Homo sapiens: one gene and its partners. The protein of the gene in region 2 purifies or fractionates together with the protein of the main gene of each other region. This does not show direct contact. Each region holds a gene or a part of one and is shown on either strand. Other genes may lie near its edges.

Region 1 (3,821 bases), on a different chromosome or scaffold from region 2:
ATGTTAAACTTAAGGTACTCCCAAAATAGCTGTATTATAACCTAAGATAATTTTTCCTTTTAAACAAAGACATGTGGCCAAAATAGGTGCAGTAAAGCCAAATGCTCCTGGGACACCGAACTAGGAATTACTTAAATAGAGTTCTTGGGACCATGGTTCACCTAAAATACTGGTTTTAACATTATTTGAAGCTCTTGGCAAGGTATTCTTAGCCTCCTCACACCTAACCACTCTTGTGCTGTGGGAAGGTCACCAAAAGAAGCAGAAGAGTCAGCAGCAAGAACAAAGGCAAATACAGACTTTTCGAATATGTTCCCTTAATATACTGTAGCCAGTAATGAACTTCATTTAAACCTAGCTTGGTTTATACTTAACCCGTTTTATATTTCCTGAGCTTGGTGTCAAAGTAATCACGTTACCCCTGCATAATTTAGGTCTCAGAAAGGAAGCATGACAATTCTAAGAAATACAGAAATCCAAAGAACAAAGAGGTTAAGAGGTCTTCTATGACAATATTTATAAGATAGGCTGCCTGTCTCCTGGAAACTTGGAAATGTTAAATTTGATCATCCCCCACCATAGTAAAAGATGACAGTGCAAATAAATTCCAGCCTTCTTAGAACCACCAATTTTCACTTTGGTAAGGAAAAAAACACTTCCAGGTGAAGAGTTTGCTCCACTAAAATTCACTACTTTAGAATAGTGTACTTTTTTCAATTGAAAAATAAAAACAATTTAAAACACCATTATGACTATGGTATAATCCCAAGACCTCACTGTACAGGCTTCTCACTCTGGCTTATTTCTATAATGCTGGTGATAAGATTAGGCTCCATCAAGAAAGCTGTTTAAAACAAAACACTGCAATGTAGGGGGATCGCGGGGAGAGGCAATCACCTTCAAAAAGAGTAAGCACTTAGTGCCTGCCATCTGCATGCATAATAACTTGCTGAACAATGGAATCCTTAAATATACATCTTTTTACACTTCAGGGGCAACAAGTCAGGCATTCACTAACAAGTGGAGGAACCATGTGCGCTAGAACTAGAGTGTGCTATAAAATTGATTACTTGGTTCCAAAATTTATTTTTAAGATTCCCCTTTTCCACCCCTGGGAACCCTTCTGTGCAGCCTCCCTGCCATGTCCCTGGAGCTCAGGGATCTTCGGGCTCTTTCCTGACACTTTCTGAAAGAATACGCGGCATTGTCACGTTTGGGTTAGAGTTGGAAAGATGCTCAGTCTCTTCCATCAACTGGGTCAGTGGAAGCCCGAGTCCAATTTAACTGTCACAGAATCTGGGTTGTAGGGGATACTCAGAGAGACAGATCTGAAAACTGGGACAGATCTGGGAACTTCTGCTCTCAGTGCACAGAGATGTTGGGCAAGGGTAGGGGGGATATCCTTTGAGTGACTGTGATAGATAATAAATAGCTGTTGGACACTGGATTTTTTTTCCTGTCATATAATTTCTGACCAATTTTACTAAACTTCAAATATGATTTATTTTTTTGAGACAGAATCTCACTCTGTCACCCAGGCTGGAGTGCAGTGGTACCATCTTGGCTCACTGCAACCTCTGCCTCCTGGGTTCAAGTGATTCTTCCGCCTCAGCCTCCCAAGTAGTTGGGATTACAGGCATGCACCACCATACCTGGCTAATTTTTGTATTTTTAGTAGAGATGGGGTTGTGCCATGTTGGCCAGGTTGGTACCAAACTCCTGACCTCAAGTGATCCGCCTGCCTCAGCCTCCCAAAGCGCTGGGATTATAGGCGTGAGCCACCATACCCGGCTGAAATATGATTTAAATGGCATTTTTTCCAAATACAGCTATACAATTACCTACACAGGCCATACAAAGTAGAGTTTAATACAGAACTACCTATAACTACCTATGCCTCCATCGCTAAGAAATAAATAATCCAATCACCTGAGAATTCAGATGACCTTTCACTTTCTCACACCCAGAGTGTGCCATTACTCTTTTCCTGATTACCTTTGCTCCCTTCTATGTGCTGAGCAGACTAGAATGGCTCCCCAGAAGAACCCTAAAACTCTTCCTACTTCAGATATGTCACAATCTGCCATGGTGCCTTTGGCCTTGATGACCTTCAATTTTAAGAAAACATTTATTTACAAATAGGTGCTACTAAGGTTTTGTTCTCAAGTCACACCTGTAATCCCAGCACTTTGGGAGGCTGAGGTGGGCGGATCACTTGAGGTCAGGAGTTTGAGACCAGCCTGGCCAACATGGTAAAATCTCGTCTCTACTAAAAATACAAAAATCAACCAGGTGTGGTGGCATGCACCTGTAGTCCCAACTACTCGGGAGGCTTAGGCACGAGAATCACTTGATCCGGGGAGGTGGAGGTTACAGTAAGCTGAGATCAAGCCACTGCACTTCAGCCTGGGCGACAAAGTGAGATTCTGTCTCAAAAATAAATAAATAAATAAAATAAAATAGAGCGTTTTTTTTTCCCTCCTTATCACCTTCCTCTGTATCTAGGTCCTATTGTTATTAAAAATAAATATGACATTTTTATGAATCTCCAACACAGAAATCATATATAGTTCTAATTCTAATAGAAACAAACTTGAATTTAACACGTTTAAGACATTATACCCTACAGATTTAAACTATTATTTGAGTTCCCAATCAGCAAGAAAGCTTCACCACCGCCCTCCTCACTAAGCAGTTCTAAAATGAGTTGTTTTTAAGCAATAGCAGAGCTGGGGCTAGGATTAGGGCTAAGCAAGGGGCAACATTTATAACTGTAGCAAATGGCAGGACCTAAAGGCACTTAAAAGTCATTCTTGGATTATCTATATTTACTAAGAATGAGAGAACAACAAAAAACCCTACACTAAACAAAACCCATAAATCCTTATATATGAGAAAAGGTATCAACATACACCTCAGAATTCATACAAACAAACAAACAAAGCACGTGAAAAATAATGCTGAAGTATCCAGTAAGTCCATAAAGTTGCAAGTATTTTCACTACTTAATTTTTTCTTGGTTTGGTCATATTTAAACAGCAAGAAAATTCTTGTAAGTTTCAAGTCCCTTCTTTAAGTTATTAAAAATAAATATCAGAAAATTCTGGGTCAATGCTTGAACTCTAGTTTTGAATGTTATTTACTACTTCTATCTTAGAGTTAATTGCTAAAACTTTTACCTTAAAATGCAATTTTTAAAGCTCTCATTACCAACCCACTACTTCTGCATAGTCCCTAAATCCTACCAAAACAAGGCAGTATAATTACAAAAAGTAAACAAGCACATTTCTTTTGGTAAACAGCTGAGTATGCTATTTTACTGCTGTTCAGAAATAATCATTAAGTTTGTGTGGCCTGTACATTTACTTTATATATTGTAAATATAAACTCTGTTATTCTAACATCACCAAATTATTTACATTCAAGAAAAATTCTCTATCTAATTGTTATTAATTAGGGGAAGATATTTTAAATAATTCTGACAAGATAAGAGAGACTAAACAATAAAAAGGCAACCCAATTATAAAATGGGCAAATGATTTGAACAGACATTTCTCCAAAGAAGATATACAAAAGGCCAGTAGACACAAAATGCTCAACATCATTAAGTCAGCAGGAAAACGCAAATCAAAACCAAGACTCAATACCACTTCATGCTTACTAGGATGGCTATAATAAAAAAGACAGACAATAACAAGTGCTGAGTATGTGGAGAAACGGGAACTCTAATACACTGCTGGTGGGAATGTAAAATGGTACAGCTGCTGTGGAAAAGTTTGGCAGTTCCTCAAAATAAGTTAAACATAGGCTGAAAACACAGT
Region 2 (3,600 bases):
ATGCCTACAATCCCAGCACTTTGGGAGGCCAAGGTGGGTGGATCACTTGCAGTCAGGAGTTCAAGACCAGCCTGGCCAACATGGCAAAACCCTATCTTTACTAAAAATACAAAAATTAGCCGGACGTGGTGGCGGGCCCCTGTAATTCCAGCTACTCAGGAGGTTGAGGCAGGAGAATTGCTTAAACCCCGGAAGTGGAGGTTACAGTGAGCTGAGATTGCACCACTGCACTCCAGCCTGGGAGACAGAGCGAGACTCCATCTCAAAGTAAAATAATAATAATAATAATAAAAGAACAATACTTTTGTAGAGAAATGACAGGACAAAGGAGTTTTGAGCTTCCAAAAGTGGCAAACTATGGAAAGGTTTATATATGGGAAGAAACTTAATAGAGTAAGGTTTGTTTGCAGATTCCTTTGGTGCCCTCTCTGGGCTAAGAAGAGTCTAGAATGTCCAGTAAAGGTGAATTTACACCTGCCCTTTAGGCAGAAAAGGGAGGATAAAGAGAACTTTTCCTGCATTTGTCGCTTCTTAATTGCCTTCAGCTGAAAATAATTTTTCTGTCGAAGAGGCATATTTTGCGGTGATATATTCTGGTTTTTTCTTTTTCTTTTTTCATTGAGATGGAGTCTCGCTGTCACCCAGGTTGGAGTGCAATGGCGCGATCTCGGCCCACTGCAACCTCTGCCTCCCGGTTCTCAAGCGGTTTCTCCTGCCTCAGCCTCCCGAGTAGCTGAGATTACAGGCGCCCAAAACTGCACCCGGCTAATTTTTGTATTTTTAGTAGAGATGGGGTTTCGCCACGTTGACCAGGATAGTTTCGAACTCCTGACCTCAGGTGATCTGCCTGCCTCGGCCTCCTACAAGTGCTGGGATTACAGATGTGAGCCACCACACCTGGCCTTATTCTGGTTTTCTTTAGGTGTCTTCATTGAACAAGTAGGTATTGTCTGGCATACCCTTCTGGGTTATCTCGTCTTATGGGGTCTTACTTTTGTCTTTAAGCTATCTAGAGCTCTAGTGGAGCATTGTATATATACCATCATTAATGAGTTAAATGGTATCTTTGACATATGTTCATTTTATATTTGTGTGAGAGTCATAATTTTATTTTAAAAAAAAGATATGCTTTTTTTTTTTTTTTGAGACTGTTCACTCTGTCGCCCAGGCTGGAGTGCAGTGGCTTGATCTCAGCTCACTGCAACCTTCGCCTCCTGGGTTCATGATTCTCCTGCCTCAGCCTCTCGAGTAGCTGCTGGGATTACAGGCGTGCACCACTACATCCGGCTAATTTATGTGTTTTTAATAGAAACGGAATTTCACCATTGTTGTTCAGGCTGGTCTCGAACTCCTGACCTCAAGTGATCAGCCTGCCTTGGCTTCCCAAAGTGCTGGAGTTACAGGCGTGAGCCACCGCGCCCGGCCTTAAAATACATGTTCCTACTTTCAAACACTTAGGGCTTCCTATATGGAAGGGACAGTGGCGGTGCTCTAGTGTCCAAGTCCCTCAAGGAGGAGGCCGGGGGCTCCGCGGACCTCAGGAGTCAGGCCTCCAATCCCCAGTTCAGGGCGCTTTCCTCTTTTCCCAAGTGCTTTCTGGCTCAGCCATTTCCACTCCCGCTCCCTTACTTTCCCATTTCCTTCGGTCACATCCCCGCATATAGTACAGGCCACTGGAGCTGCCTCTGAGACACCGCCGCGGGCGCGGGTACACACTCCGCTAAGGGCATTCCCAACCCGGTTCCGCAGCCTAACGGCGTGGCTTGGACCCTGCTGCAGCCCGTAGCCCCTATCCTTTCTCCTCCGGACTTCAGTTTGGCGGCATCTCTGTCTTAGCGAGAGGGGCTGTGACTAAAAGCTGCCTTTTCTCAATGAACTGCCAGTTTGTAAGAGCCTCCGGGTCCCCTCAAACCGCCTCGAGCGCCCCTCTCCGCGAGAGCTGCGCGGCCGGAACTGCGCCGGCGTGACGTCACTGACCTCGTCGGGTTCACTTCCGGCGCTCGCACCGCCCCGCTCTCCAGCCAAGGCTCCGGGCTGAGGCATTTGCTTGGCTGCAGCCTCCTTCCGACCTGCCCGGCGGGACCCAGGGGACCAAGCCGAGCCGAGCCGCGGGGCCCGCTCCAGCCCGGCCATGAGCGCGGCCGCATGATGCGTCCCTGCCTCGGCCGCTGCAGTCGCCGCCGCCGCCGCCGCAGGCCGGGAGGAGCCGCAGCGCCGGGCGACCCCGCCCGGGCCTCGGGTGAGTGCGGCGGGCTGGGCCGGGCGGGCTGCTCACTCCCGGGTCTCCCGGCCACTTCTGGCCCCCGGCGTGCCCTGTCCTTCCGTCGGTTCCGCCGCTCTGTCTCCACCCCGCCGCACACCTGCGACCTTCTGGAGTTCCTAGGGGCACCTCCGTGCCCGCACCTGACTTCCCTTCCAGGTGCCCCCTTGTCATTCCTTAGTTGCTCTCTCGGGATAGGGCCCGGATTGCAGCCCCAGCTTTTTGCCTGACCTTGGGCGTGACACTCAGCTCTCCGAGCCCTGGTTTTCTGTGTGGCTAATGACGGGGTGGTGGTTACAGAGCAGCTATAAACCCTGTGTAAGCTGTAAAGAGTTTTTTAATAGGCAGGTATTACAATGAGCAGTCTCGCACTTCGCGTTGTGGCTTCTCTTCCTCTTAAGCTGTAAACTTTTCTCTTTTATTCTCTGCCCATCTTCCTAGTTATCTTCCCTCCTGCTCCACGTCAGTCATCTTTGGGTGTTAGTTGCCTGAAAGGGCATCTGGGACAGTAAAGCTTTCAGGGCAGTAAGGCTCACCTCTCCTGGTGTGGTTCCTTCTACAACTTTGTCACACTCAGTTAGATAGACACACTTTATTAGCTTATGAAGAACCAGTTTATTGTGGCCGTTAAATTGGAGTGTAAGAGACAGTGTTGATGCGGCTACCTGCCTTGTAGCTTCTTTTACTGTCTGGGCTGTATACAGTGCTGGGCAAATCGCTGCTACAGTGTTGCATTTTCAGTCTGCTTAGTGTATGCACTTAAGCGCACGTATTTATCTATTTTACTGTTACTATCCCAAGGGGTTTAGAGATTTAGGTCAATGTGTATTAATATTTCTTTCTGAACTCTTCATCTCACAGATGAAGAATCTCTTTTTTGTTATGTTTTACAGTGTTTACATACCTGAAATCACCTTTTAGTCACTTTGTGGCCTGGTACGCACGCGGTGGCTCGTGGCTCATGCCTGTAATCCCAGCGCTTTGGGAGGCTGAGGCAGGAGGATCACTTGAGCCCAGGAGTTGGAGAGCAGCCTGGGCAACATAGTGAGATCCCCTTCTCTACAAAAAAATTAAAAAATTAGCCGGATATGGTGGTACACGCCTGAGGTCTCAGCTGCTTGGGAGGCTGAGGTGGGGGGATCACTTGAGTTTGAGATCATGCCACAGCACTGCAGCCTGGGCAACAGAGTGAGATCCCCATCTCAAAAAAAAAAAAAAAGTCACTTTGTTAAATTCGCTTGTTAAAAGTCAGAACTTGGCCAGGCACAGTGGCTCATGCCTGTGATCCCAGCACTTTGGGAGGCCGAGGCGGGCGGATCACGAAGTCGGGAGATCGAGAC
Region 3 (3,821 bases), on a different chromosome or scaffold from region 2:
TCTGCCTCCCAAAGTGCTGGGATTACGGGCCTGAGCCACTGTGCCCGGCCCATCTAACATTTTCACTGTCAATCACAATGGGATTAAAACTCCTCCCACAGCCCCTAGGGCACCATGGGTCTGCTCCTGTCTCCCCTCCAACCTCATCTTCTTCCTCCCACTCTCTCCTTGGCCCCATCTGCTCCAGTCCCCTGGCCTCCTTCCTGTCTGTCCTCAGATGTGCCCAGCCATTCTCACCTCAGCGCCTTTGCACCTGCTGTTCCCCCCAGAGCCGCACATGGCTGGCTCCCTGTTCTCCTTCAGGTCTCTGCTCAGATGTCATCTTCCCAAAGAGGCCTGCCTCGACCTCCCCTGCTGCTGTGCCGTCCCCTCATCTGTGACCCTCTTGCACTATCACCTCCAGGACGGCGGGGGTTTTGTGTTTTGTTGTAGCCTCAGGAAGTGCCTGATAGATCCCTGTTTCGAGACCAGTTCCATTTGGTTTTCTGGGCCTCAGTTTCCGTAACCGTGAAGGAGACCCTCGGCAATCTGAGCTTGCTGGGAAAGGGCTGGGCCCCATGTAAATATTTCTAAAGCACCCCTCTCCCCTCCCCCCTCAGATCAGGAGTCTGAGGGAGAGGCACAGAGGCTCCCTTTCTCTAAGCCAGTCCTCACCTGCCTAAGAAGATGTGAAGGAGACCCAGGAGACCCTGGGATAGGGAGGAACTCAGAGGGAAGGGACATTCTTTTCTTCGTCGCAATCCTGGGAGCTCCCTGGAGGAGGAGACCCGATCAGCCTGCAATCCTGGCGCGTCCCAGGAGGAGAAAGCGGCTTCCTCTATACTGTACTCTCCTCCACAGAACCCCCCTCTCAGCCCTGGAAGTCCTTGCTCACAGCCGAGGCGCCGAGAGCGCTTGCTCTGCCCAGATCTGCGCGAGTCTGGCGCCCGCGCTCTGAACGGCGTCGCTGCCCAGCCCCCTTCCCCGGGAGGTGGGAGCGGCCACCCAGGGCCCCGTGGCTGCCCTTGTAAGGAGGCGAGGCCCGAGGACACCCGAGACGCCCGGTTATAATTAACCAGGACACGTGGCGAACCCCCCTCCAACACCTGCCCCCGAACCCCCCCATACCCAGCGCCTCGGGTCTCGGCCTTTGCGGCAGAGGAGACAGCAAAGCGCCCTCTAAAAATAACTCCTTTCCCGGCGACCGAGACCCTCCCTGTCCCCCGCACAGCGGAAATCTCCCAGTGGCACCGAGGGGGCGAGGGTTAAGTGGGGGGGAGGGTGACCACCGCCTCCCACCCTTGCCCTGAGTTTGAATCTCTCCAACTCAGCCAGCCTCAGTTTCCCCTCCACTCAGTCCCTAGGAGGAAGGGGCGCCCAAGCGCGGGTTTCTGGGGTTAGACTGCCCTCCATTGCAATTGGTCCTTCTCCCGGCCTCTGCTTCCTCCAGCTCACAGGGTATCTGCTCCTCCTGGAGCCACACCTTGGTTCCCCGAGGTGCCGCTGGGACTCGGGTAGGGGTGAGGGCCCAGGGGGCACAGGGGGAGCCGAGGGCCACAGGAAGGGCTGGTGGCTGAAGGAGACTCAGGGGCCAGGGGACGGTGGCTTCTACGTGCTTGGGACGTTCCCAGCCACCGTCCCATGTTCCCGGCGGGGGGCCAGCTGTCCCCACCGCCAGCCCAACTCAGCACTTGGTCAGGGTATCAGCTTGGTGGGGGGGCGTGAGCCCAGCCCCTGGGGCGGCTCAGCCCATACAAGGCCATGGGGCTGGGCGCAAAGCATGCCTGGGTTCAGGGTGGGTATGGTGCGGGAGCAGGGAGGTGAGAGGCTCAGCTGCCCTCCAGAACTCCTCCCTGGGGACAACCCCTCCCAGCCAATAGCACAGCCTAGGTCCCCCTATATAAGGCCACGGCTGCTGGCCCTTCCTTTGGGTCAGTGTCACCTCCAGGATACAGACAGCCCCCCTTCAGCCCAGCCCAGCCAGGTACTGCACGGGGCGGGAATCTGGGTGGGGGCCAGAGTAGGGGATTTCTGTGGGTGCTAGAGGCTTGGCTTGGGAAAGGGTCTGTGTGTCACCCCTTGCTCCACCAACATCCTCCTATACAAAGGCAGGTCGGTGCGTGGGAAGGTTGACCCTTGTGTGTCTGGGAGGCCCCTCCATCTGTGAGGCTGCCTGAACCCCCCACTGGGACCTGTGATTTCTGCGGCACAAGTCTTGGGTTATGGGGAGGGATCCGAGATGAAAGGGGTCCTGACAGCTGCCAACTGTCACCCCCTGCAAGGGGCTGTTGAGCCAGGCCTGTGTTCATTACAGTTTGTCGCCAACACTGGCGCCACAAGCCGTGGGAGGTGTGTCTGTCGCCTAGCAGAGTCTGCAAGAGCAGGTGTCGCAGGCTTTCTTTGCGTTTGCTACTGTGTGGGTCCCTGTGACCTTGTTTCTGACTTAGTAGCGGACACATGAGTGTCCTGGGCATGTCCTTGAGTTTGGAAGTGTGACTGTGTGACTTAGTTTACAGTGTGATCTGGGGAGTCTGCGGTGGTGGGGGTGTGTGGCTCTGGGGCTTTCTGCTTATGTCTCTTGTGGGGGGGGTCACCACCCTGCCTCAGTGCCCTCTCCTGGGGTGTCCCTGGCAGGGATTAGGGGGGCATCCTCTGAAGGGAGGGGGTCTGGGCTGCCATCCCAGGATGTCCTTGAGCCCCGAGGCCTGGACCCGTGTCCTCCCAGCCACCCTGGCCCACCTGTCTTGGGCCTGCTGACTTGGTGCAAGCCGAGCCCCGGAATGTGGGGGTGGGGCGGGGCAGCAGCTGGGGGTGGGATGGCAGGCAGTTGCCAGATTCTAAAAATAACCACCCTGGACAGCAGCACCCAAGGTCTTTGGCGGGTCCCTGTTCCTCTTCCCTGGCTTCAGCTCACCGTGGTCCCAATCTCCCTCCCACAATCCCACCTGCTTCCCATCCCCGTCTCCCACCGCTGCTGGAGGCCCCTTCTCCTTTCTGGGTCCCTTCTCCTTTCTGGGTCCAGTGAATAAAATAATAATAACAGTAGGACCTGGCGCAGTGGCTCACACGCATAATCCCAGCATCTTGGGAGGCCGATGCTGGAGGATCACTTGAGGCCAGGAGTCCCAGACCAGCCTGGGCAACATAGTGAGACCCCATCTCTGCAAAAAAGTAGTAATAACAAATAACAATAATAGCAGCCACCAGGGTTCCAGGCTCCAACTCCATGCCAGGGCCTGTGCTCAGCCAACCTCATGGCCAAGCTCAGAGGATCCTGGCAATCCTACGGGGCAGGCTCAGTTCACAGGAGACAGAGGTCCAGAGAGGCCTAGTGACTGGCCTGGGGTCACACAGCAGGGAAATGGCATAGGTGGGATTTGAACCTGCCTCTGACGACCCAGAGGCTGAGCTTTTCTTCCCTTCTGAGCCCTGTGGGAGAACTGTCAGCAGGCAGAGGTGGGGGCAGCTACCCAGCCCTCCCCCGACCCAGCCCTTTGTCTTTGGATTGATAATCCAAGAACCTGCTCACATACTCCCAGCAGCACCCTCACCTCCACCTTCTCACCAGCTCCTCGCACGAACCTTTAAAATAACAACAACAGGCCAGGTGCCGTGACTCATGCCTGTAATCTCAGCACTTTGGGAGGCAGAGGTGGGCGGATCACTTGAGTTCAGGAGTTCAAGACCAGCCTGGCCAACATGGCGAAACCCCAACTCTACTAAAAATACCAAAAAAAAAAATAGCCAGGTGTGGCACACGCCTGTAGTTGCAGCTACTCAGGAGGCTGAAGCAGGATAGTTGCTTGAACCTGGGAGGTGGAGGTTGCAGTGAACTGAGATTA

What was found.
Region 1: the proteins of ZDHHC7 (region 2) and NDFIP1 purify together in Homo sapiens (affinity purification with mass spectrometry; 2 studies listed by BioGRID and IntAct, with this or other methods). This does not show direct contact.
Region 3: the proteins of ZDHHC7 (region 2) and CKM purify together in Homo sapiens (affinity purification with mass spectrometry; 3 studies listed by BioGRID and IntAct, with this or other methods). This does not show direct contact.

What each region holds. Positions count from the first base shown.
Region 1 is NC_000005.10:142,125,646-142,129,466, reverse strand, and holds part of NDFIP1 (NEDD4 family-interacting protein 1), read right to left. Parts: intron 1-3,821. UniProt on the Homo sapiens protein: Activates HECT domain-containing E3 ubiquitin-protein ligases, including NEDD4 and ITCH, and consequently modulates the stability of their targets. As a result, controls many cellular processes.
Region 2 is NC_000016.10:85,009,925-85,013,524, reverse strand, and holds the start of ZDHHC7 (palmitoyltransferase ZDHHC7), read left to right. Parts: upstream 1-1,989; 5' UTR 1,990-2,239; exon of another isoform or gene 2,240-2,419; intron 2,420-3,600.
Region 3 is NC_000019.10:45,320,963-45,324,783, reverse strand, and holds the start of CKM (creatine kinase M-type), read left to right. Parts: upstream 1-1,908; 5' UTR 1,909-1,963; intron 1,964-3,821. UniProt on the Homo sapiens protein: Reversibly catalyzes the transfer of phosphate between ATP and various phosphogens (e.g. creatine phosphate).